4 linked regions of the Homo sapiens genome follow. The protein of the gene in region 3 purifies or fractionates together with the protein of the main gene of each other region. This does not show direct contact. Each region holds a gene or a part of one and is shown on either strand. Other genes may lie near its edges.

The links.
Region 1: the proteins of TMOD4 (region 3) and LRRFIP1 purify together in Homo sapiens (affinity purification with mass spectrometry; 2 studies listed by BioGRID and IntAct, with this or other methods). This does not show direct contact.
Region 2: the proteins of TMOD4 (region 3) and MYO5A purify together in Homo sapiens (affinity purification with mass spectrometry; 2 studies listed by BioGRID and IntAct, with this or other methods). This does not show direct contact.
Region 4: the proteins of TMOD4 (region 3) and ACAD11 purify together in Homo sapiens (affinity purification with mass spectrometry; 2 studies listed by BioGRID and IntAct, with this or other methods). This does not show direct contact.

Annotation. Positions count from the first base shown.
Region 1 is NC_000002.12:237,749,580-237,756,629, forward strand, and holds part of LRRFIP1 (leucine-rich repeat flightless-interacting protein 1), read left to right. Parts: intron 1-1,620; coding exon 1,621-1,692; intron 1,693-3,729; coding exon 3,730-3,900; intron 3,901-6,515; coding exon 6,516-6,608; intron 6,609-7,050.
Region 2 is NC_000015.10:52,371,834-52,378,883, forward strand, and holds part of MYO5A (unconventional myosin-Va), read right to left. Parts: intron 4,726-7,050; coding exon 4,514-4,725; intron 3,628-4,513; coding exon 3,471-3,627; intron 531-3,470; coding exon 291-530; intron 1-290. UniProt on the Homo sapiens protein: Processive actin-based motor that can move in large steps approximating the 36-nm pseudo-repeat of the actin filament. Can hydrolyze ATP in the presence of actin, which is essential for its function as a motor protein. Involved in melanosome transport.
Region 3 is NC_000001.11:151,169,487-151,172,981, forward strand, and holds the end of TMOD4 (tropomodulin-4), read right to left. Parts: intron 2,872-3,495; coding exon 2,782-2,871; intron 2,278-2,781; coding exon 2,147-2,277; intron 2,055-2,146; coding exon 1,947-2,054; intron 1,578-1,946; coding exon 1,434-1,577; intron 1,178-1,433; coding exon 1,033-1,177; intron 811-1,032; exon of another isoform or gene 618-810; coding exon 595-617; 3' UTR 501-594; downstream 1-500. UniProt on the Homo sapiens protein: Blocks the elongation and depolymerization of the actin filaments at the pointed end. The Tmod/TM complex contributes to the formation of the short actin protofilament, which in turn defines the geometry of the membrane skeleton.
Region 4 is NC_000003.12:132,635,768-132,642,817, reverse strand, and holds part of ACAD11 (acyl-CoA dehydrogenase family member 11), read left to right. Parts: intron 1-15; coding exon 16-141; intron 142-684; coding exon 685-846; intron 847-3,161; coding exon 3,162-3,326; intron 3,327-7,050. UniProt on the Homo sapiens protein: Acyl-CoA dehydrogenase, that exhibits maximal activity towards saturated C22-CoA.

The sequences.
Region 1 (7,050 bases), on a different chromosome or scaffold from region 3:
CGGGGAATACCTTAGTGAGAGCACTTGGCACGTTGTGTTGATGCACTTGGTCGTCTCTGTATGCTTGGTCTGCATAGACATTCAGTCCACAAGTTTGGACACCAGACGGCTTTACCTACTTTCACACAACCCCTCCCCACTAAGTATGTTCCCCTTCGGCCTAGAACTTGCCCTTTCCTTTCTCTTTGTAATGTGCCTTTAGTAGCCCTCATCTTTGTATTTTAATGATTTTTTTTATCCCACTGTAGTGTAGGTATTATTCTCTGCTCTATCCTCAGCACCCAGGACAGTGCCAGGCATTTGGTAGTATTCTGTGTGTGAAAGAGAAACACGGTGCTATTTGTTAAAGTAACTAGGGACAGTGCATCTGAAAACCTGAAGACTGGAAGGGCAGGTGAGGTGACTAGACCTGTGTCCTCCAGGGAGCAGAACCAAGACAGAAGCAGCTGAAAGGAGCCAGAACTGACTCAGATTCTGAATTTTCTAGTGCTTTAAACTAGGTTTAAAAGGGAAGCAACTTCCACTGGGGATGTCTGAGCAGCTGGATGGCCGTTTGCCAGGGAGGACGGAGAGGGATTTAAGCATCCACCAGAGTTTGGCCAGGGTTACCTTGAAGATGCTTCCAACACCTATGTTTTATAAGTTTACAAAACCAGAAGAGCCATTTCCCATGTGCCACCCCTGGGCCACCTGCAGCTCCTTGTTGCTTCCCTTTTTTTTTCCTTTTTCTTTTCTTTTCTTTCTTTCTTTTTTTTTTTTTTTTTTTTTTTTTGGAGACAAGAGTTTTGCTTTTGTCACCCATGCTGGAGTTCAATGGCACGATCTCGGCTCACTGCAACCTCCACCTCCCAGGTTCAAGTGATTCTCCAGCCTCAGCCTCCTGAGTAGCTGGGATTACAGGCGCCCGCCACCATGCCCGGCTAACTTTTGTATTTTTAGTGGAGACGGGGTTTCGCCATGTTGGCCAGGCTGGTCTTGAACTCCTGACCTCAGGTGATCCACCCACTCGGCCTCCCAAAGTGCTGGGATTCCAGGCGTGAGCCGCTGCGCCTGGCCTGTTGTTTCCGTTTCTACAGCAGAGCAGCAGAGTTGGCGGCAGTCCTGATGTTTCTCTGCCCTTAGGTTGCGCGTGCCGTTCATTTGTTCAGGTACTTACTGAGAGGCTGGCTGGTGCCAGATGCTGTCCCCGGCACCAGGAATTTGGCAAAGTAGAGACTTGGAGCTCCATAAATGCAGGGAAAAAGTGCTACTGATTTTTGCCTCTAGCATCTTACTGTACATTGCACAGAGTAGGAACTCCTAGTGCTTGAATGAATTACTAAATAGGAGTTGAAATAACCTGTACCGTTTTCCGAGGCTCTATTTTGTCTGTTTTTTAAACTGTGTAAAATCATATGAGATACACTAAAATTGTATAAAATCATGTAAAAATATCATATGGGATACACCTGAACTTTAATCTTTAAATATTGAAGTTTATTTTCCCTTAACGCTTAATAAAATAAAAAAGAAAATTGGGTGCTCAGACTACCCAAATAGAAACTACCCTGAAGTATAAAAGATTTAGGGAATCACCTGTTTTCCCTTGACATCATCTGCCTTTTTTGCCATTTCCCCCAGGAACTCAATGAGTTAAAGGACCAGATTCAGGATGTAGAAGGCAAATACATGCAGGGATTGAAAGAGATGAAGGTACCAATTCACAGACGTGTGGTCTCACGATATTAACCCAACTTAACTTAAAAAAAAAAACAACATCCTAAAGAAGAAATTCAAAGTGCATGCTTACTGTAAATAGGCTCCAGGGTGTAGAAGAACTCACAATGGCAGGAGTGCCGGCATGGGTGTACACTCACCATTTTCCCAAATGCATTGTTTGAACCAAGATTGAAAATGTAACTGCCCAGTAGAAAAGGTTACTAACATACTCCCTGATGCATGCCTTAGACTTACCATCCTTCCCCCAGGCTTAAAACCAGTTTCTCATTTCCCATAGGCGTGTGCCAGACACTTGAAGAAGGTTCTTGGTTTTCTTCACTTTTTGTAGTAGTTGTATACAAAAATGCTTCAGTTGATTTGCTTCTCAAAATATCTGATGTCTACTAATAAGGCCGTCCTCACATGCCACACTTTTGAAACATCCCAATTATTTGCACCCTGTAAAATGCTACTAATTGAAGTAAAGACTGACTATGGCATTGGCTTTCTTGGAGCGTGTGCACACTGCTTTTAGAGTGTGCAGTGACTTCATTGCACCAGCCAGGAGATGTGGTTGCCCTGTTCCTTGACAGTAAGGTGGGCAATCAGTGACTGTCTTCCTTAGGCAGCAGCGGATCATGGATCTGGAAGTGGGTGGCGTATCTGTTACTTCCTTTTCAGCCCCCTAGAAAGTACCTGCAAGATCATTTGAATTTAATATCAAAGGGCACCAGACAGAGGAGGTGACATCGATCATGACTAATTCACTATCTTCATATCTGCCACCTTTCCTGAAAGGGGGAAAAATAAGACTCTGGCTTTCAATTCATGCGAAAAGGAGCCACTTGGCCAGGCGTGGTGGCTCACGCCTGTAATTCCACACTTTGGGAGGCCGAGGTGGGTGGATCACCGGAGGTCAGGAGTTTGAGACCAGCCTGGCCAACATGGTGAGACCCCGTCTCTACTAAAAATATAAAAATTAGCCAGGTGTGGTGGTGCGCACCTGTAATCCCAGCTACTTGGGAGGCTGAGTCAGGAGAATCACTTGAACCTGGCAGGTGGAGGCTGCAGTGAGCCGAGATCGTGCCACTGCACTCCAGCCTGGGTGACAGAGCGAGACACTGTTTCAAAAAAGAAAAAATGCTGCTGGGGAGCCACTGAACCAACCGGAGACCCGCTGGTCCCACGTGAAGCAGCTGTCCTGGTGTGGAGGTACAGAGCTAGACCAGCACTGGTCCCTCCAGCCCCCTGGTAGCCTCTGCTGCACCTGAACTGGCAGCTCTTGCCGCTGCCTTTAGCTCTGCATGTATGCGCCCTGAAGGTTCTGCCTCTCTGTTTTGGAATCGCCTTCCCCTCCTCATGTTTGGGGACCTGCAAGGGTGTGAGGCACGTGAGGGCATCGCCATGCGTATTTTACAGGCCTCTTTCTCTGGACTGTCCTTCAAAGGGAATGACCTTTGTCTTTCCAGGACCTACCCAGTGAGATCTGCCTGCCATTTTCCTATGAGTCAAAAATCTGAACTCACTACTGCTCCTTTCCTGGTTCATAAGCCAGAGTAGGGCTGGTTGGCAGTCACTGGCTTGTGGCCCTATGTAATTATCTCAGCCATCACACACTGGCTCTTTCACAAGGGCTGGTCACACGCCTCGAGTGATTCTTCAGAAATCTGTTGAACAGCCTGACACCCAGCCCTAGGACGCCGTGCTGGGGGGATTCCCCAGCTACTGAGTGGGGCCAGAGACTCTACTGCCTCTGTGACCACATCCCTTTCCATACTGGTATCTCGTTTGTTCTAATGAGTGTGTCCATTGCTTTTAATAGTGAATTTTCTGAGCAATGAGAATTTGACCAAATTGAAAAGGGGGATTTCCATGCATTTGAAATTGCCATGTGTTTCTTCTTCTGATCCATTTGCTCTAAGAAATATAGTCTAAGTTTAGGACTGAGGGTTTTTTTTTAACAGAATACTGAATGATTCTTTGTTTTGATTTTTTTATTGCAATTTCAAAAATATGACCTGCTTTCCACAGGACTCTCTAGCAGAAGTTGAAGAGAAATATAAGAAGGCTATGGTTTCCAATGCTCAGCTAGACAATGAAAAGACAAACTTCATGTACCAGGTTGATACCCTAAAAGATATGTTGCTGGAGCTTGAAGAACAGCTGGCTGAATCTAGGCGGCAGTACGAAGAGAAAAACAAAGTAAGCATTAGTATGATACAGAATGTTAACAATAGGCTGCGTGCAGTGGCCCATGCCTGTAATTCTGGTACTTTGGGAGGCCAAGGTGGGAGGATTACTTGAGCCCAAGAGTTCGAGACCAGCCTGGGCAACATGGCGAGACATCATTTCTAAAAAGAATTAAAACAATTAGCCAGGTGGTACATGGCTGTAGTCCCAGCTACTTGGGAAGCTGAGGTGGGAGGATCACTTGAGCCTGGAAGGTTGAGGCTGCAGTGAGCTGTGTTGACACCACTGCACTCCAGCTTGGGCAACAGAGAAGACACTGTCTCAAAAAAAAAAAAAAAAAAAGGGAATGGTAGGGTGTGTGTGTGTGTGTGTGTATGTATGTATGTATGTGTGGATATATCGTGTGTATGTATGTATATATAATGTATAATTTACATTATGTATTTTTATATTTTTAAACAATGGCTCTCCGCTTATCCAGGAAATCCAAACATCTGAGAATAAAAGTACCATACTCTTTGCCAAGTGACTTGAAATATTGATACGTATAATTTCAACATGTAAACTGGAGACAGTTTTTCTAGGAGAACATCTAAGCTAAAAGCAAAACCATGAAAAAACATACCTATGAAAGAGCCACCATGCTCAGATAAGGTGCGATCAGATGCTTCAAGATTTTCCTATTCATATGTATTTTCTGATTTTTATTTTGTTCTCTCTCAACACCATAGGGAAATAGTTATGAGTATCAAAGATTTTAAGAAAATTATATTATTTTCTGCTGATTGGGAAAAGACACAGTTACTCTACTTAAGAATTAAATATATCACCAAGCTCAGAGAGAGAGATAGTCTTATCTGAGCTTTCATTAGGAACCACTGGAACTAGTTTGTTAATAGCTGAGATCAGATATAATTTCTATTGAGAGTCTCAAGCATGAGTCATGTGTTAAGATAAGTAATGACAGCGGACTGATTCCACGAAGGCTGGGCTTGGATGTTCTTTAGATAGAAAGCAAGGAATACTTTTTTCATACTTTTAGGAATTGTCCAATTTTTCAGAGATTCTGAGAAAAACAGAAAATGTAATGTGTGAGTGTCGTTGTTGTTGTTGTTTTTAACTGGCTATTATCCTCTAAATCCAAAGGGTTAAAACCAAGGTACCCTTGACAACCTTCAGGCCTGCTTCTTCGACTGCTATAGAATTGAGTTGGAAGCTGAAGAACATTTTACGCACAAAGTTCCTTATAGCTGAACTCTGCAAGAGGGGAGCTTTTCACAAGACTGATGTCATGTGGGAACGGAGGAGTGGAGAGCACAGCCCAGCCCCCCTTCGGGTGGGGGCCTGTAATGCATATGCATTCCTCCTGGAATGCTGTCATTAGGCATCATTCAGTGGACTGAAAACTCCCGAGTCTCACTCCAGAGAAGCTGGATGGTGCTAGAATGCTGTCCCGAGATGGACACAGGGGCCATGCAAAGCCCCACAGGAGGGCCCTTGTCATAGCCAGGAGGGCACCAGCCACCCCCAAGCTAAAGGAAGTGGGCGAACAGAAGTGCCAGGGTGAGCAGAAGCTCAGGCCAGATCCCATCTCAGATCACCCGCCTGACAGGTCTAGGGAAGGAGCGTCCTGCAGGCCTGTAAGCTGTCAGCAAAGTGAGTTGGGTCTCAGGCCGTCACCAGGGATTGCGCTGCTGTGACTGGGCAGGAACACAGCAGAGCCGAGCTGCCAGCTTCCTGGGCTGAGCCTCAGGTGGGGAGGCCAGGCCTGAGGAGCAGCTAGGTTTTGCAGGCTCTCCATTTGCTCCCCCAAACTCTCCTGTTTTTGTCTCTTAAGGGGCAGCCCTGAAGCACAGAGCTGGCCACCAGCTGTTCATGAGAGATGCTTTAGTAGGCCATGTTTATCTCCTTTTTATCCCAAAGAGTTTTCCTTGTCATATTTCAGCAGGGGCCATTTTATGGTAAGTCCTTGCAGGGCAGCCTCACCCAGGCTCTCAGCACAGTGCTGTGGAAGACACCAGGCTCCCTGGGGGGGCCCTTCGTCGGCTCTTGCTTCACTGTAGATAAGAAATCAGAAAATCCTTGTTGATTGCATCAACTCCTCAGGTTAATTTGACAGTAAGTCATCAGGCATCATCTATAAAGTCCAGAGGAATCTGTTTGTGTTGTTTGAAAGGGCTTGAAGGCCAGGTGCAGTGGCTCATGCCTGTAATCCCAACACTTTGGGAGGCTGGGGCAGGTGGATCGCTTGAGGTCAAGAGTTTGAGACCAGTTTGGCCAACATGGTGAAACCCGATCTCTACCAAAAATAGAAAAATTAGCCGGGCATGGAGGCAGGCGCCTGTATTCCCAGCTACTTGGGAGGCTGAGGCAGCAGAATCGCTTGAACCCAGGAGGCAGAGGTTGCAGTGAGCTGAGATCGCACCACTGTACTCCAGCCTGGACAACAGAGCAAGACTCCATCTCAAAAAAATATATAAATAAAAAATAAAATAAAAGACCTTGAAGATTGTGATGATGTAGTAGCAGGTGATTTGTTCCACAGAAACTATAAATCGTGAGAGCCTGAACTGGCATGCCAGAAACATGGGATTCCACTGCTTTAGTGCTGTTTTTCTCCTTTACAGGAATTTGAAAGGGAAAAACACGCCCACAGTATACTGCAATTTCAGTTTGCTGAAGTCAAGGAGGCCCTGAAGCAAAGAGAGGAAATGCTCGAGGTAGGTAGCATTCTCCTGCTTTTCTTTTCCTTTTTTCCCTTTGGAGCATTTTGTCAGGCCATGACTATCTTAGCTTAGGCTGCAGTAATAAAATACCATACACAGCATGGCTTAAACAACAGAAATTAATTTTCTTACAATTCTGGAGGCTGGGAGTCCAAGATCAAGGTTGGGTTCAGGTGAGGCCTCTCTTCCTGGCCTGCAGACAGCCACCTTCTTGCTATATCCTTCCTCCAACGGTGGAGAAAAAGCAATGTCTCTGATGTCTCTTCATATAAGGACACTAATCCTATTTGATCAGGACCCCACTCTTATGACCTCATTTAACCTTAATTACTTCGTAAAAACCCTATCTCCAAATACAGTCACATTGGGCATTAGGGCTTCAACAGATGAATTTAGAGGGACACAATTCATTCCATGGCAATTACTAAAGTTTTCA
Region 2 (7,050 bases), on a different chromosome or scaffold from region 3:
AACTCTAGCCTGGGCGACAGAGTGAGACCCTGTCTCAAATAATAGTAATAATAATAATAATAATAATAATAATAATAATAATAATAATAACTTCCTGCCTTAGTTTTTGCAATTGTGATCCACCTTATGAGTTCATAAGTACTTCCATGCCCATTATGGAAATAAATACGGTCATAATTTTACTTTTTACTAAGACCGAAGGGTAAAGTCAAAGAAAAACAATATTGAAAATAATCCTGGTGGATTTCTTCAGGCATACTCCACTCTCAGGGCCCCTTTGTGAAACACACCTGCTCATCAACTTTGCGCTGCAGCTGCATGATCTTGTTCTCCATGCCGATGTGCAGCTTCTTATAGCGCTCCACTGAGCGAGCCTCGATTTTGAGCTTCTTTAGCTCACGCTTGGCCATCATCCGCCTGAAGCAGCACTGAAGGTAGATGATGGCATGCATGCTCCTCTTGTAGTGTGTGCGGGCCAGCCAGCCCCGGACTCGCTTCTGAATGATGACTGCTTTGTGCTCACGGAGTATCTGCAGAAAAGGATAAGGGCAAGCAATGTCAAGACCCTGGACTACACTCATGATTATCAATCTATGTCGGGCTGAAAATCCACACATTACCTAGAGGAAAAGACATAAAAGTTGAATTGACAATGTACTATGTAGATTATACTTATCACAGATATATGGAGGCTACAAAATTATTTTTAAAAGTGATTTGAAAAGTAGACTTTAGAAGGTGATTTCAGAAACATACATAAAAATGTGTCATATGCACATATTATGTGTATAATTCTAAGCAGAATATAGAGTTGGAAGCTGTCTAAATAAAAAGCACCAGATTACCAAAAGAAAAACAACTATAAAAAGAAAGAAAAAATACATTAGGTTTCTTATTAGTATATGATTTCTGTTGGCAACAGATGATCCTCTATAAAATTAACAGAACCAGGCATCCTGTAAACTATGTGCTACTAAAATAAGAGATATCCCCACCACCCTGACTGCTGATACCACCTCACTATGCATTATTAGGCCCGTGCATGAGGACACGGGGTATGGGCAGCAAACTGTCTGTAGAGGCCAACACTTGGGGTACTAAAAAGTTTGTACTGATTTATTGATTTTTTTTTTTTTTAGAAACTAAAAGATGACACTCTTGTTTACCACATTTGAGGAATACCATTCTAGTGAGGATTTTCCATTGCTATTTCAAATGTAGCAAGGATCCACTTTTGGGATTCAAAGGTAGGAGGGATGGGGCTTTAAAATGAAAGGTAAAAGTAAAAAGATGTGAAACAAACTAATCTTACTTTTGATTTTATGTTACATTTCCTAAAAAAAAATGATATTTCCCTAAACTTATAAACAAACAAAAGTTTGCCTTATTAGATGAATTTGTTGTCGCTAAAGAGCACCAAAAAGACACCGTGTAAACATTTTCTAGGAAAGATGGAGAAGAAATTCTTGAATTTTAAGAAGAGGTAGCCAGGCACAGTGACTGGATAAATAAAACTATTAATGCCAATTTTCCTGTTCCATTTGCTTCTCCCATGTAACTTTGGACATGGGTCCATTTTTGTAATTTTAGTCAAATGGAAACAGCATTTAATCAGAGCTTCCATTTTCAATCTCACTTTCATCATGAGTGAGAGAAATTAATCAACACCTGTACTCTCTTTAAGACCCCCCCACTCCAAATCTCATGAAGGGGAACCTTGGACCTGAAATACAGCTAGAAGGAGCACTAATGTGATGGCTGTTGGCTTACATGTGAGCAAGCCTCTACGCTACCACCTTCCACCCTGTCCAGTCACAGTGGGAGCCTGAGCTGGCCGGAGGCTGCCACTGCTAAACCAGTGACCTCAAAACCCAGCTCAGATGTTCCTAAGGAAAGTAGTGAGGAACACAGGAAGGTAACTAGTTTGGTGTATCTGAAAAGCAACTTCAAACCTCTTTCCTCCCTAAAATCTCACGCTTATATAGAAAGAGCATGAGACTACATAAAGGAGGGGTGAGCAGAAAGATCTGGAGTAGCTATCTTCAAAACACAGCTATTAAATACACTCATTCAAGCCTCACCAGTTTCGAATTTTTTGTTGTCTAAAATCACTTCAAATAAAAATAAATAAATAAATAAATAAATAAATAAATAGGGCCTAGGTCACACCCATATACTGTCTGTGCTTAGAGACCCAAATCACCCCATTAATGCTCCTTCTAATGGTGATGTCCATAGAGCTCTAATATCCAGGCTTGTATTTCTCACTGATTTGAAATATAGCCTGTAGGATAGACTCCAAACCTTGCCAAAATGAAAGAGATAAAAATCGTTCATCAATGGTCACAGGTGATAATTAAGACTACTCTGGTGACCCCATTAATTATTGCTAGATGTAAGATTATTTGTCAAAAACTTTTGGAGCATTGTATCTGTCAATACAATTTTAACCACATTAATGTTATAATTTGCCTCCTCTTCACCATGGTAAATTCTTCCAAGGTTGTCTCATTCTTGGAATAACCTTTAACCTGTTTGTCATATATTCTATCTATTCAAAGTTCTCTGTAGTCATCTGAATAGGGGGCCCCAAGGAAATTAGGTGCTAATCCCTGGAACCTGCAAATGCTATTTATTCAGAAAAAGGGCCTTTGCAGATGTGATTAGGTTAAGGGTCTTCAGATGGGAGGATTATCCTGGATCACATGGGTGGAACCAAATGCTATCATAATTATTCTTATAAGAGGCAGATAGGAGAAGTCAAGTCAGATACACAGAAGAGAAAATGCTGTGAAAACAGAGGCTGAGACTGGACTGATGTGGCTACAAGCACAGGAATGCTGGCAGCCACCAGAAGCTGCAAGAGGCAAGGAATGGATTCTCCCCTGGAGCTTCTGGAAGGAGAGCAGCCTGCTGACAACTTGATTTTGTCCCATTGATAATGATTTTGGACTTCTGGTCTCCAGAACTCTGAGAGAATTAATTTTGGCTGTTTTAAGGTAACAAGTTTGTGATAATTTATTATAGCAGCCACAGTAAACTAACATACTTTTTTTTTCAAATTATATAAACAAAGAGAAAGAAGGAGGTAAAAGTTTTTTTCCCATTGTTTTGTTAATAACTGTATGTGATTATTTAGTATTTTAAAATGCATTTCAGGCTGGGCATGTGCACAATGGCTCATACCTATAATCTCAGCACTTTGGGAAGCCACAGTGGGAAGACTGCTTGAGGCCAGGAGTTTGAGGCTGCAGTGTACTATGACTGCACCACTGCACCCCAGCCAGGGTGACAGAGCGAGATCCTATTTCTAAAAAAGAATTTTTTAAAATAAATAAATATGCATTTCAATAGCTGGTTGTCCCCATACAGTTCCTACCTTCATTGTAGCCCCTGTGGTACTCTGTATAGATGTGAAATTTGGTTAATGCTAATAGAATGAATAAACAAAGTTGAAAATAATGCCTCACCTTGCGATACCTATTTCTGGCCAAGAAGCCTCGCAAGTAAGACTGAAGAACGATAGTGGCAGCTCGTCTAATCTTGTACCTCCTGCGGACCACATACATGCGCCAGTACTTTTGAATGATGGTTGCTGCCTTGGTTCTGCGCAGAAACTTAGCATAGCTGGCCAAAGAAAATAACATTATGTTGTCAGTAATCAGAAAAAAATGCAGGAATACATATTAGAGAAACTTAAAGAGTGTCACTGTTTTAGGCATAAATAGTACCTCCATTGTATTATTCTAATAATGTGCATGCTAAGTCAACATTTATATTTACTTACATTTGTATAGCAATTTATAGTTTCCCAAAGTATTTTTGCATTTATTATCTCATTTGAGCCCTCCCTAACTCTGGAAAGTAGGATGGCCCACATTGCCAGATTTTACAAGAAAGCAAAATTCACAAAAATTCATTCTTTCTACAACAGGATCCATTTACCCCAGGCCATGCCTCTTTATAGAACAGACAGACATACACAGTAATCTCATACTTAGTTATCACCAGCTTTCTTGGATCTAGCCATTATTCATCTACCATATTTTTCCTGATTTTGTTAGGCTATAAGCTCATGATTAATTCAGTTCTACTTATACTTCTCAATTAAAATTAAACTAATAAGTAATCACACTAAAGTGTAATTCTCTTCCAGACCCTCTCAGTTAATTGCTCCCAAAAATTATACAATGAAGTCATTATTACCTAGCTCATATTCACGACTGTTTTAATTGATACATGATTTCCTCAAGCCCAATATAAAAGTATCAAAAATAAAAATTTTGAGGACATAAGTAAGCAGCAGTTTGTAAATGTTTTGAAGATAAATCTGAATCATTCATAAGGCTGAGTGAAATTTTATTCTATTTAGCTGTCCTATGAGTTAATTTGTTGTCCCTTGGAACTAAGAAAAGGTGAGGTGTTATCTTTTCAGCTATGGTGACCAGTCAAAACTGTCCTTGGTTGGACAGTGAATTAGATGGGCACTCTACTCTGTCCCCAGGAGACCTACCATCGGGCCTGGTAGCCCCGCACGTATCTCTGCATGGTGATGGCTGCCTTCCGCATGCGTAGGTACTTCTTTCTCAGCAGCCACCCTCGGATGGTCTTCTGGATCCGGATGCAGGCAGCTCTCAGTTTGTCAGCTCTCAATTTTTCTAGATAGGCCACTTGACCGGCACGGAAAAAGATCTTTGTCTTACCAAACTGGTATTTGTCCTTGTCCTATTTTTGGAAGAAATTGTATATTCAGAAATAATAATCATATAAGTGAAATTTAAAAGAAAAAATGTCTAAAAGCAGAATCAGTAAAGGAATGACTCTATTAGCTAAAACTTGGGCTACATCACAATTAACTAATGGAGCCAGATTTTTAATCCTATGCAAGTTGAGCAAATAGAAGGGATTTTAAGAAAAACTGCAGTTTAAGAGTTATTTTCCAGAATTATTCTACCTGGAATTATTATCTGAGGCCCAAAACTTGGTTGTGGGTTATAGGCAGTTATTATTTGCTTGTTTGTGTTTTAAACATCTCAAGGAAATGGAGATGCTGACTCTCTCTGACTGACCCAGGTTGTAAGGATTACAGCGGGCTGTATATTCCATGAGAAGCTGAAGGGACAAAAACACCAGTGTGAAGAATAAGGCAGGAAGAAACGTTTATGAAATAAAATTCAAAAACCAAAAACCAAAATCCTTGGGTATTCATATTGAGTTATGTTTCTAAACAGTTAGCTCTTGGCTTTATCAATAATATCTGAAAACAAACTAACAAAACCCCATAAATATGTTTAAAATCCTACAAATTGGCCGGGTGTAGTGGCTCACGTGTGTAATCCTAGCACTTCGGGAGGTCAAGGCTGGCGGATCATGAGGTCAGGAGATCGAGAACATCCTGGCCAACATGGTGAAACCCTGTCTCTATTAAAATACAAAAAATTAGCCGGGCATGGTGGCATGCACCTGTATTCCCAACTACTTGGGAGGCTGAGGCAGGGGAATTGCTTGAACCCAGGAGGTGGAGGTTGCAGTGAGCCAAGATCGCGCCACTGCACTCCAGCCTAGCAACAGAGCAAGAATCCGTCTCAAAAAAAAAAAATCCTTTCAAACTCCTTTTACAAAAACATAATAATTTATATTACATTGTGATTCACCTTATCTAGAAGTATGCAAATCATTAATCATTCTTGCATCAAAGAATGGAATTTATATGTAAGAATCATTACTGTGACCTGGAATTCTTTTTTTTTTTTTTTGAGATGAGTCTCGCTCTGTCTCCCAAGCTGGAGTACAGTGCTGTAATCTCGGCTCACTGCAGCCTCCGCCTTCTGGGTTCAAGCGACACTCCTGCCTCAGCCCCCTGAGTAGCTGGGATTACAGGTAAACACCACTACGTCCAGCTAATTTTTGTATTTTTAGTGGAGACAGGGTTTCACCATATTGGCCAGGGTGGCCTCAAACGCTGGGCCTCAAGCAGTCCGCCCGCCACGGCCTCCAAAAGTGCTGGGATTAAGGGCGTGAGCCACCATGCTTGGCCATGTGATCTGAAAGTCTAAGGGAAAACAGAGAAAATCATTTTTCCCTATGAGTAGATATCTCATATTATCTCATATATGAAACCAAAAAATCTGACACATCCACATATATCTAAAAAATCTACAATTATTTCAATTTAAATCAATAAAGTTTACATTGGAAACCTAGCTAGAAAAGTGGTCCTTACCCGCATCCCGCTTCACACCTCACACCAACCCTGCCTCCATCTTTCAGCCTCCTCTGCCTAACTAAATTCCCACAAAGCCCTGATCCAGGCCTGAAATGGCCTGGGTGAGAGGACCAGGAATAGGCCTGTTCCTACTTTCTGCTCTACATTCCCACCTGAACACAGGTTAGAAGGGGATTGGGCAGGCTGGGCGCAGTGGCTCACACCTGTAATCCCAGCACTTTGGGAGGCCGAGGCGGGCAGATCACGAGGTCAGGAGTTCAAGACCAGCCTGGCCAACATGGTAAAACCCTGTTTCTACTAAAAATACAAAAATTAGCTGGGTGTGGTGGTGTGCACCTATAATCCCAGCTACTGGGGGGGCTGAGGTAGGAGAATGGCTTGAACCCACGAGGCGGAGGTTGCAGTGAGCCGAGATGCCACTGTACTCCAGCCTGGGTGAAAGAGCAAGACTGTCTCAAAAAAAAAAAAAAAAGAAGGGAATTGGGGCAAACTCAAAAAGCCCCAGTTAAAAAAAAAAAAAAAGCATTGCTGAGGAAGTGGCCTTAGCTCTTTCAAGGAAAAAATATTATTAACAAAAAAAAGGCATCACATTTAGTTCACAGCTAGTAATTATGATCAATTAGCTCAAAGTGAGGTACTCCATCTAGGATAGTGTTAACCAAGTGAAAATATTATTTTAAAAACTTTTCATGAATCTTTAATTCTCTAAGACCAAGATCAGTAGTTCTCAAAATATAGTCCTCAGACAGCATCGGCATCACCCGGGAAATACAAATTCTTGGGCCCAACCTCAGACCTACTGAATCAGAAATTCTGATGGCGGG
Region 3 (3,495 bases):
GCCCACCTCGGCCTCCCAAAGTGCTGGGATTACAGGCATGAGCCACCGCACCCAGCCACGGCTATCCATACTTCTAACCCCTCCCCCACCTCCTACCAAAGCCATGCCAAGCGTCAGCTGCATCAGCCTGGTGCCCTATTAATAAGACTGTCAAAAAGAGGTCTTTGCCCTTCATGTTGTCTGCCTGCTTCTCCACTACCACTCAAAGTCCTTTCCCCCTTCAAATCACATAAGGACTGCAGGTAGGCACTAGGGGGACCTGGCCACATCTGGAAACAGGGCTGTGGCTAAGTTCCCTGTGAAAGTAGAAGAGTCAAAAGGCATTGGCAGGGTTATGGGGAACACCAAGGGAGGGAACACCCCCACCTCCTCCTAGTAACCTGAACCTCCCTGCCTGCTGATCCCCAGAGTATAAATAATCCCCTGGTGAACTGGCAGTAACCCTTGGGGGTTAGCGCCAAGATTCTCACCCCAAAGCCCAAGGAAGGAGGCAGGCAAAATGGATAGAAGGGCTTTTATTTACAGGAAAGGAGGACAGATGAGGATTTAAGTGTCCAGTGCTCCCAGCGCTAGTTGGTAAAGGGAAATGCAGTGTTATCTCTTCTTTTGCTGGCGACCTGTAAAGGAGCAATATTAAACATAAGTGTTTGTTCCAGCTCCTGCTTTCTGCAAAGGCACTCTTCTCCTTTCCAGTCCCTTAGCCAAACTCATAAATTGGTAGTGTCTTAGGCCACCTTACAGGCCCATCCCACATTAACAAAACAAAACAAGAAACCACACCACAAATAAAATTACGATACCTCTAAACAAGTATGATTATCTCTGGCATCCTTTCTACCTCTCTACTGGTCCATATTTGGGGCAGGGGGAGTTTTCTGTTTACTTTCTGATCACTCTTGGGATTTGAAATTCTCATATGAATAGCTCTTTGGTAGCACCCTGGGCTGTTAGTCATTAGGTCTGCTTTCAGGAGGATCCACCAATTTCTGCACTTCCCTGACCACTCCACACATCATGTCTGCAGTTACTCACGTAGTTCATTGTTTCGGGTCATGGCCTGGGCTGCCCGAGCTCGTGGCCCCTGCTGTGTAAAGTGGTAGCCAAAGCGGACAATAGAGGGACACTGCTCTAGCACGGTGGCCATCTCCATCTCCACTGCATCACCAGGCCACTGGCGCTGGGGGAGGGAGAGGCAAAAGCTGACAGTCACCCTCTCTGGGCTGTTTACCATCCCACATCACAGACCCCTTTGGGAGGTCAAAGAAGCTTGTTTCTCCACAGTGGGTGAAGAGAGATGCTGACTTGGCTTCCCTCACAGAGACAATGAAGAGGAGAATTCAAGCAAGATTAAGTAAGATAGCTGCCCCACTGGCTGGCTCAGGGAGGAGACTCAATGAGACTGAATGCTAACATCAGGGGAAGGGAATGCTGACCTGATTGTCTACACGGAGCTCAGTGAGTGTGGCATTTTCCCGAACTGCCTTCAGCACAGCCATGAGTCCTGTGCTGCTAATGAAGTTGGATTCGATGTTTAGGCTCTGGAGGCTACGATTCTCACGCAACATGTCAGCCACTGCCTGGGTAGTAGGGACTTGGGTTAGGATTAGGGAACAGTTTCACAGATGACTGAGGAAAGAAAGAACAGGAGCAAGAGGGAAACACAGCTCTTTGAGAAGAGTCTTTCAGGTGCTGTAAATGGAGCTAGAGGGATACAGAAAGCAGGGCGGATAGCAGGGGAAAGCAGGGAGATGAATGTGCAGTGGGACTAGGGGTGTTAGAGAGAGTAGAGAGTTATGAGCCATAGCACTGAAGGTAGGAGTCTCCATGAGGGCTGCCCTAAGAAGGCATGATGAGAATAGCACTCCCTAGCAAAACCCTTTATGACAGCCATGCAACAGGTGCATGTAAGATGTGGGGAGAGGGCTGGGGATGTCAACTAGCCTTACATTGGCAATGGGGTCACCACTCCTCGTGGCTACCAGACTGAAGCTCCGCACATAGGTATTTGCCTTCATTGCCTCACACAGCTCACTTAGCATGGGTATTGGGATGTCCTATCGGAGGGGAATAGGAGATGGTGGGCTAAGGGACTCTCGGATGTCAGTGGTTATCCGGTGTTATGGTTTGGAGGATGCAAGTCAAATACCTGTATATTATTCAAGTTCACCTCCTCCAGCTCCTTGTCATTGCTTCGGACCCTCTTTAGTATCTCCTCAATGTTTGTGGGATTTGGGGGTTCATCCGGCACTGGCTTATACTTGTCAGGCTGTACCACACCTGGTGAATGAGGGCAGGAAGGGAACCCCAACATGTTCCCCATAATCTCCTCCCCATTGGTTTTCTTTTCTTTTCTTTTTTTTTTTTTTTGAGATGGAGTCTCGCTCTATCCACCTAGGCTGGAATGCAGTGGCACAATCTCAACTCACAGCAGCCTTGACCTCCCGGGTTCAAGAAATTCTTGTGCCTCTGCTTCCCAAGTATAATATCTGGGATTACAGGCATGCAACCAGCTAATTTTTGTAGTTTTAGTAGAGACAAGGTTTCACTATGTTGGCCAGGCTGGTCTTGAACTCCTGACCTCAGGTGATCCACCTGCCTCGGCCTCCCTAAATGCTGGGATTACAGGCATGAGCCACCTCACCTGGCACTCCACAGGTTTTCTTATCACTCATGCAGCATGTCCTCTCCCAGAATCATCAATTTCACCCTTTTCTACCTTCTCCCAGACACTAGGACTGCCTGCCCAGAGCCCTGGGGACCATGCTCCCCAAACACACTCACTGCTAATGCCTTCAGTGTTGCAGATTTCTCCACTGCAGAGGGCATCATAGTATTGCTTGTTACTCATCAGTGTGTACATGTCCAGAATTGCTGGAGAGGGTAAGAAGAGGAGTCACAGGGAATGAGAAGGAACCTGTTCCAAGCCTCCCTCCTACCTATTTCTGAATCTGTTGCATTTGTAAAGCCTGACCACTTACACTTTGCCAAAGAAGTTTCCCACCCTCTTTCAGCCCCAGGGGTCCTTTCCATAAACTTCTTAAGGCAGTAGTTTCTAAAACATTGAGAAAGGGCTAAGGGAAGGTCCCTTATGAGCCACTAGAGGATAAAGGAGTCTGTAGAGACTCTCCTCTTTCAGCCAGAATGGTTCCACTTTTTTTCCCCCCGAGACGGAGTCTCACTCTGTCCCCCAGGCTGGAGTGCAGTGGTGCGATCTTGGCTCACTGCCACCTCCACCTCCCGGGTTCAAGCAATTCTTCTGCCTCAGCCTCCCAAGTAACTGGGATTACAGGTGCATGCTGCCATGCCTGGCTAATTTTTTTTGTTGTTGTTTTTGTTTTTGTTTTTTGTTTTTTGAGACGGAGTCTCGCTCTGTTGCCCAGGCTGGAGTGCAGTGGCACTATCTTGGCTCACTGCAAGCTCGGCCTCCTGGGTTCACACCATTCTCCTGCCTCAGCCTCCCGAGTAGCTGGGACTACAGGCGCCCACCACCACACC
Region 4 (7,050 bases), on a different chromosome or scaffold from region 3:
CATCATCCTATTTAGATTGATAGAGAATTTAAAGTCCAGAAAGCCTTGTTTTCAATTGGATTCCCCGTTCCCAAGCCTATACTGTACTGCAGTGATACTTCTGTCATTGGAACAGAATTTTACGTAATGGAACATGTGCAGGTAAATTAACACTTAATCTTATTTTGTTGCTTTTACTTTTAATTATGAAGTTAATTAAGATGTTTTATTATGATACTTAATAAATGATATAGTTTGTTATTTAACATTTTAGGTAATTAGATTGCATTGCAAAGGTTTACAATTTTGTTCAAATTTGAGCACTTACAAAGGGAGGGATGGAATAGACAAGAAACAAATTTAGTAATTAGGGGGTATTGACTTATTCTTAAATTTTCCTCTAGGTGTCAGTAAAGAGCTATCTGTAATGGCAATAACCAAATTGTCCATAAGGTAGCAGGGAAAACAGACTCCACATAGGTCAAGCCATTAAGAACAATAAATTCAAAATGTGTTTTAAATTTTTTCTGTAAAATAGTTGAGAGTAGTTTTGATGTTTATATTCATCTTGGCATATCCTTTTATTTTCCCTTTGGCATGTATACTCTAATATTAAATATGTTTCACAAATGAATGTTTTTCTAGTATATTCGACAAAGTATTGATTATACACATTTAAATAATCTGTTGTAATCACTTCCATAGGGTCGAATCTTCCGTGATTTAACAATTCCTGGACTTAGCCCAGCAGAACGTTCAGCCATATATGTGGCCACGGTAGAAACATTGGCTCAGTTACATTCCTTGAATATACAGTCACTGCAGCTGGAAGGATATGGTATAGGTGCTGGGTACTGCAAAAGACAGGTAATGCATCCACATTAATAGCTATTTTTTTCAAGTTCTTGTAAATAATATACCTTATTAGTCAACAAAAAAAGCTATTATTGTATAGTTTTCTGAAGCTTGGCCATGACTTTTAACATTGTCCTTCAGAATGACTAGTTTTTAGTATAAAATTATCTTATGTTTTTATATTAGGTTTTGTTCAGCAAAATCTTCTGTTTTAGACTCTTAATTTTCCAATACTTTTAACTATACAGTTTTTTCTTCTTCTTCTTCTTCTTCTTCTTCTTCTTCCTCTTCCTCTTCCTCTTCCTCTTCCTCTTCTTCCTCCTCTTCTTCCTCCTCTTCTTCCTCTTCTTCCTCCTCTTCTTCCTCCTCTTCTTCCTCCTCTTCTTCTTCTTCTTCTTCTTCTTCTTCTTCTTCTTCTTCTTCATCATCATCATCATTTTGAGACAGAGTCTCCCTCTGTTGCCCAGGCTGGAGTGCAGTGGTGCAATCTCTGCTCACTGCAAGCTCCACCTCCCAGGTTCACGCCATTCTCCTACCTCAGCCTCCCGAGCAGCTGGGACTACAGGCTCCCGCCATCACGCCCTGCTAATTTTTTTGTATTTTTAGTAGACATGGGGTTTCACCGTGTTAGCCAGGATGGTCTCAATCTCCTGACCTCGTGATCCGCCCGCCTCAGCCTCCCAAAGTGCTGGAATTACAGGCGTGAGCCACCATGCCCGGCTTACAGTTTTTTCTTTCTCAATTGGACTAGCAGACATTTATTAAGCTTGACTGTGTGTTTAATACCTGCTGAGTACTGTGTTAAATATCAAGAAAAATATACAATAGGTTCTTCCCCACAGGAACTTATGGTCATTTTTGAGAGACCTGTACATGCATGTCATTCACGAAACCTGAAAATGGTATAAAAGAGTGTAAAATCTAGTGGTAAATTGTTTGATACTCACCATGATTCAAAGGGTGGAAGTTGGGATGCCCTTGCTTATATAGAGAAAGCTTCCTGGGAGAGATATCTTATAATGAGTATTTAAGGAAAGATAAAATTTGGAGTGATGGAGATCATTTTAAATTAAAGGAAAGCAATACTAGATATATATGGGGCTGCTTTCCTTTGTAAGCATATCATTTTGTGGGGGTTAAGGAAGAGAAAAGGGAACTAAAGTTTAGAGTGTACTCACTATATGCTAGGTCCTACATGGCAGAGTGAGTTGTCGGCCTCTCTTTTTTGATCTTTACAACAACTCTAAGATATAGGTATTATTACTCCCATTTTGCAGATGAAGAAAGGGAGGCTTGCATCAATCAAGTAATACACAAGTAAGTGGCTTAGATATAATTTAAACCCAGGTTGATATGACTAGATAAGACCAAGTAAAGGTCTTTGCTCTATTGCACTAAGTTGAGCAAAGATACCTCGGGAAATGGAGATAAAAAAGCAAATAAACAATATGGTCCCACCTGTTGGAGGACTTTACGAGTAAGTTGATTTGTTTGCATTCAATTCTAAGAACAATAGAAGATCTTTACACTATTCATACCTGTAAAATATTTAGAAAATTCTGTGGGTAATAAGAAAGAGTATTAAAATGAAAAGTAGGCTGGGCGCGGTGGCTGAAGCTTGTAATCCCAGGACTTTGGAAGGCCAAGGCAGGCGGATCACGAAGTCAGGAGTTCGAGACCAGCTTGACCAATATGGTGAAACTCCGTCTCTACTAAAAATACAAAAATTAGCTGGGTGTGGTGGTATGCATCTGTAATCCCAGCTACTTAGGAGGCTGAGGCAGGAGAATCACTTGAACCTGGGAGGTGGAGGTAGCACTCCAGCCTGGGCAACAGAGCGAGACTCTGTCTCAAAAAAAAAAAAAGTAAATGTCTTCTTTTTTCTTCTAGTCCCCATATTCCCTTTTTCAGGGGTTACTTATTTCTCGTGACCCTTTCCAGAGATTATCTATGCCTATATATTTGTGTGTGTGTGTGTGTGTGTGAGAGAGAGTGTGTGTGTGCGTGTGTGTGTTTGTATGCATTCTTTTTTTTTCTTCTACAAAGTAGTTGCTGAATAAAGACTAGAACCCATATCTCTTGATCCCTAGGCCAGTATTTTTCTCTTGATAAAAAACTAGGTAAGTAAAATGGAACTATATGGAAAAGAGACTTAAATGTTTAAGGTTTAGGCTGATTTGAGTGTTTTAGGATGACAGGAGTATCACCAGCATGGGTCTTAAGTATTTAGGAGTAAAACAGCATTTGAATTTTGTTTTAATTTTAGAATTGCTAGATCCTACATTCCAGTTTCAGCTTTACCATTTTTCTTATTTATATGTCTTTAGGTATCAACCTGGACAAAGCAATATCAAGCTGCAGCTCATCAGGACATCCCTGCCATGCAACAGCTATCGGAGTGGCTAATGAAGAACTTGCCCGATAATGACAATGAAGAGAATTTGATTCATGGAGATTTCAGACTAGATAACATAGTTTTCCACCCTAAAGAGGTACAGTTAGCTATGTTTACAATTAATTGAGTAGGTCTGTTTTGTGACACAGTACTAAGTAAATGCTCCCCCCAGAGCACTGAGGGAGCCCAACCCACTCCCTGTTCCCCTACAGCTCAGGACTGTCGTCACCACTCAAAATTTTTAGAAAGGAGTCCTGCAGATTTTCCAGCATAAGTTAGCTGCCTACCTTTGAGACTGGTTCTAATCCCAAGTGGTATCTGGTTTACTGCTTAAAAGGATTTGGGAATTTTACATGCATGATGCTGTTTTCTTCAAATAAGTTTTCATCTACTAGTTACAATATTTAGCTTATCCATGTTCTTGCTGTTTTTTCTGGTTCATTTATACTTCTTTGGGGTTTTTAGCCCTATCTCATGAAGAATTTATTATTTGTTTATTATAAACTCTGAGAATAGAGAATTCCAAAAGCTTCTTGAGGCTTCAAAAGAATTACATGAGATTAATATAACCTTGCTCAATGTAAATGTGCATACTGTATTCTTTATAAAGAGTATAAACAAATGAAAGCTGTAATCCTCCACTGAGCACCTACAATGAGGCCTAGGATTACAGTATAGTAGGAATGAATCCTGCTTCTGAGAGGAGGATTTTCTGGGTTCATTAGTTTCTTAGAATGCTAAGATGTTTTAGGGCAGGAAGAGCTAGTGGCACTGATGAATTCTGAATTCTAACCTTGTTAATTATCTACCCTGAGATTAGAAAAATTAAATATGCTAATTTATAATCTAGATAATTATAAAAGCATATGCCTGAAAACATAGCAGGATCTGGCCTGTATTTGATCTGTGTCATTTAATTAATATTTTAGTCGAGTCTACATAATATTGAGTCTCTATAGTAGATAACAAATTAGAACCCACTAGACTTGGAGTTCCTTTAAAACAATGACTGTATCTTATTCATCTTTATATTGCAGGTGCTTATATGATTCTGATGAATCTATGTTGAAGGGATTAATTTTAGTTAATTATTCACTAGCAACTATTTCCATCTCATAAATTTATGCTTAACTTTCATTCCCTAGCAGTGTGAACTTAAAGCATGTTATTCAATCTCTCTCTGTGCCTCTATTTTTATTTTAACTTTTTGTTTTGAAATAATTAGAGTCCCCAAAAAAGTTGTAACAGTGTTATAGTACAGAGAAGTCCTGTGTATCCATCATCCAAATTCTGCAAAATGGATATTATACAACTATGGTACATTATCAAAGCCAGGAAATTGACATTGTGTACCTTTTAAAATTGAAAAAAAAAATTCTGAGTTGCTGGGCAGCTAAAATGAAACAGTCAATGTGGAGCAACTAGCTGGTACCTGGCACATCAATGATGCTCAGTTTATTTCAGGTACCCTCATTTTTCCATTTTTTCCCCTTCATTTTTCTCTCTGACTTTTCTTAGACTACTTGTCAAGCTTCTTCAGAAAAATATTAGGGTATAAGTAAATGCTTCATAATATGTACGAAAACCTAAACAGTGGTTGTAGGGGATAGAATTATAGGAGACATAATTGTACATTTCTGTAATGTTTAGGGTTTGATGTTTTTTGGTTTTTATTTTTAAAACAACAGCATGTTTAATTTTTGTCATCAGAAAACACAACAATTAAGAAAGAAGAATAAACAATTTTAAATGACAAACCTTCCAGGAATGTGTGGAGTAAGCCAGTAAAGGAAACTACAGGATATGGCAAAACGAAATTATTTTCTGTTACTTATTTACAAAGTATTTAAAGCATGTTTGGGCAAGTATTTCAGTAGCACAATAGGCTCACTGCAATGTTGAAAAGAAATCCAGTTTTCCTGGAAAATGTTGATTTTCCAAATATAAATTTTACCAGTAGAGAAATGTTTAAGATCTTGGAGTTTAATGTAAAATCTGCATATTGTCATTTCAACTTGAAAAATATATTTAATTAGAAACATCCATTGGAACTTGTCAACTTCAGTGATCTAGAAATTGAAACCCCTTATTTTTGACCTCACCCTCTTTACCTTCTGTTCTTTTATTTCTCTGCATCTTCCCTGAGACACTGCAAATTTGATTGCTGTTAATTTAGAATCCATAAGCCCTTCATGACTTCACTTGACTTCTTATCCTACATAAGCCACATGGTCATAATCAGTCATCTCAAAAACTACCTTTAGTATCAATTTCATTAATAATTTTTTGACTATAGATGTATGCAAGTAATGTAAGAATTATAAAGTGTCCTGACCTTAGGTTACTTATTATTCTAGAATCTTCCCACCCTGACTTTATATCATCATTATTATTATTATTTTACTTTTTATTTTTTCTAATAACCCTACAGGGGATGTCCATCACCCCTTGACTTTAACCAGTTTCTAGCCCTAAACTTGAATCCTCATATTTTTGCTGCAGAATAAAGTCGTGAAGTAAGGTTAATTGGATCTGGGACATTTTTATGCCACATGATTTTATCTAGGCTGTAACTTCATCTCTTAGTAAAACCTGTGACATTTAAAAAATGGCTTTTCTAAATCTTTTCCCTTCTTCTCAAACTCTCACATTTCTTGTCCCATCTCGGTTCCCACTCTCAGCATGTGGTCTTGTCTTCTACCTAACTCATCTTTGTCCTTTCAGTCATTTTCCAGCATAGCCTGCTTTCTAGGAATTACACCATGCCCCTCAAAGTTCTCTTTATATTGTTGAAGACATTTTCGTCCGCTACACAATATCACCTGTATGCAGATTGATGGGTGATATTTTTCTTTAGCCTCATTGCCAAGAAAATTTGTCCCTCTTGAGCAGCTGGTTTGTTTTTGACCTGCATACACTATAAAGATTGTGACTGACCATGCTTCACACTTTATTTTACCCGCTATAAAATTCAAAGCAAATTTTACTACCCACACTAACAACTATGCATGTCCTATCACATTCAATTATGTGTAATAACCTTACTCCTAGCTTCATCTTTTCATTACAAATTCTATTATTTTCTTCCCTGCCTTCTTCATCTACTGTTTGTTCTGTTGGATTGTATGTATTTTTTGTTTGTTTCGAATGCCAATACACATACATATTAATAAAATTCAATGGTGTAAAAAGTATACATAAAATGAATCTCTTTATAAAGAAGATAATTTAAAAAACTAAAAGCTTTCTGTTGAGCTGAGGTTTCAGAAAAACTATCAAAAATAATTTTACTAATAAGTTCCCTAGCAGCAGTAAGACGAACTAGTAAATGTCCAGATCAACCACTAAAAGTTATGTTGAGCTTTTAATAACTCTCAACACAAACAGGCATCAACAGGACTCTAATTAGCTATTGCTAATTAATTTGCACTAATTTATGCAATTTGATGAGCCATCAGCTTTTCTCACTGGCTGTTGTTTTATAGCTTTGTGTTTTTACCCCAAAAATGGTTCAGATATTCTGAAAAGTAACTCCAGAGAAGTTTCCCAATTGTATTAAAAAAGAAAAGTAATCATTTATAGCATAAGTAAGTGCCTCATCTTTACTTTGGATGTTAAAAGCATAGATAACAAATAGAATGATGTAAGAGAAAAATGCATCCATCCTCTTCAGTAGTTTCACAAATCTAGCTAGTATAGTAATTTATAATACTTATAATATTATAAATTTATAGTATAATATAACCACAATAAAAGCTCTTATAAAGTCATAGAGAAAGGAGTGATCAATTTTTTTCCACAGTAACAATGGCAAAGTTTTG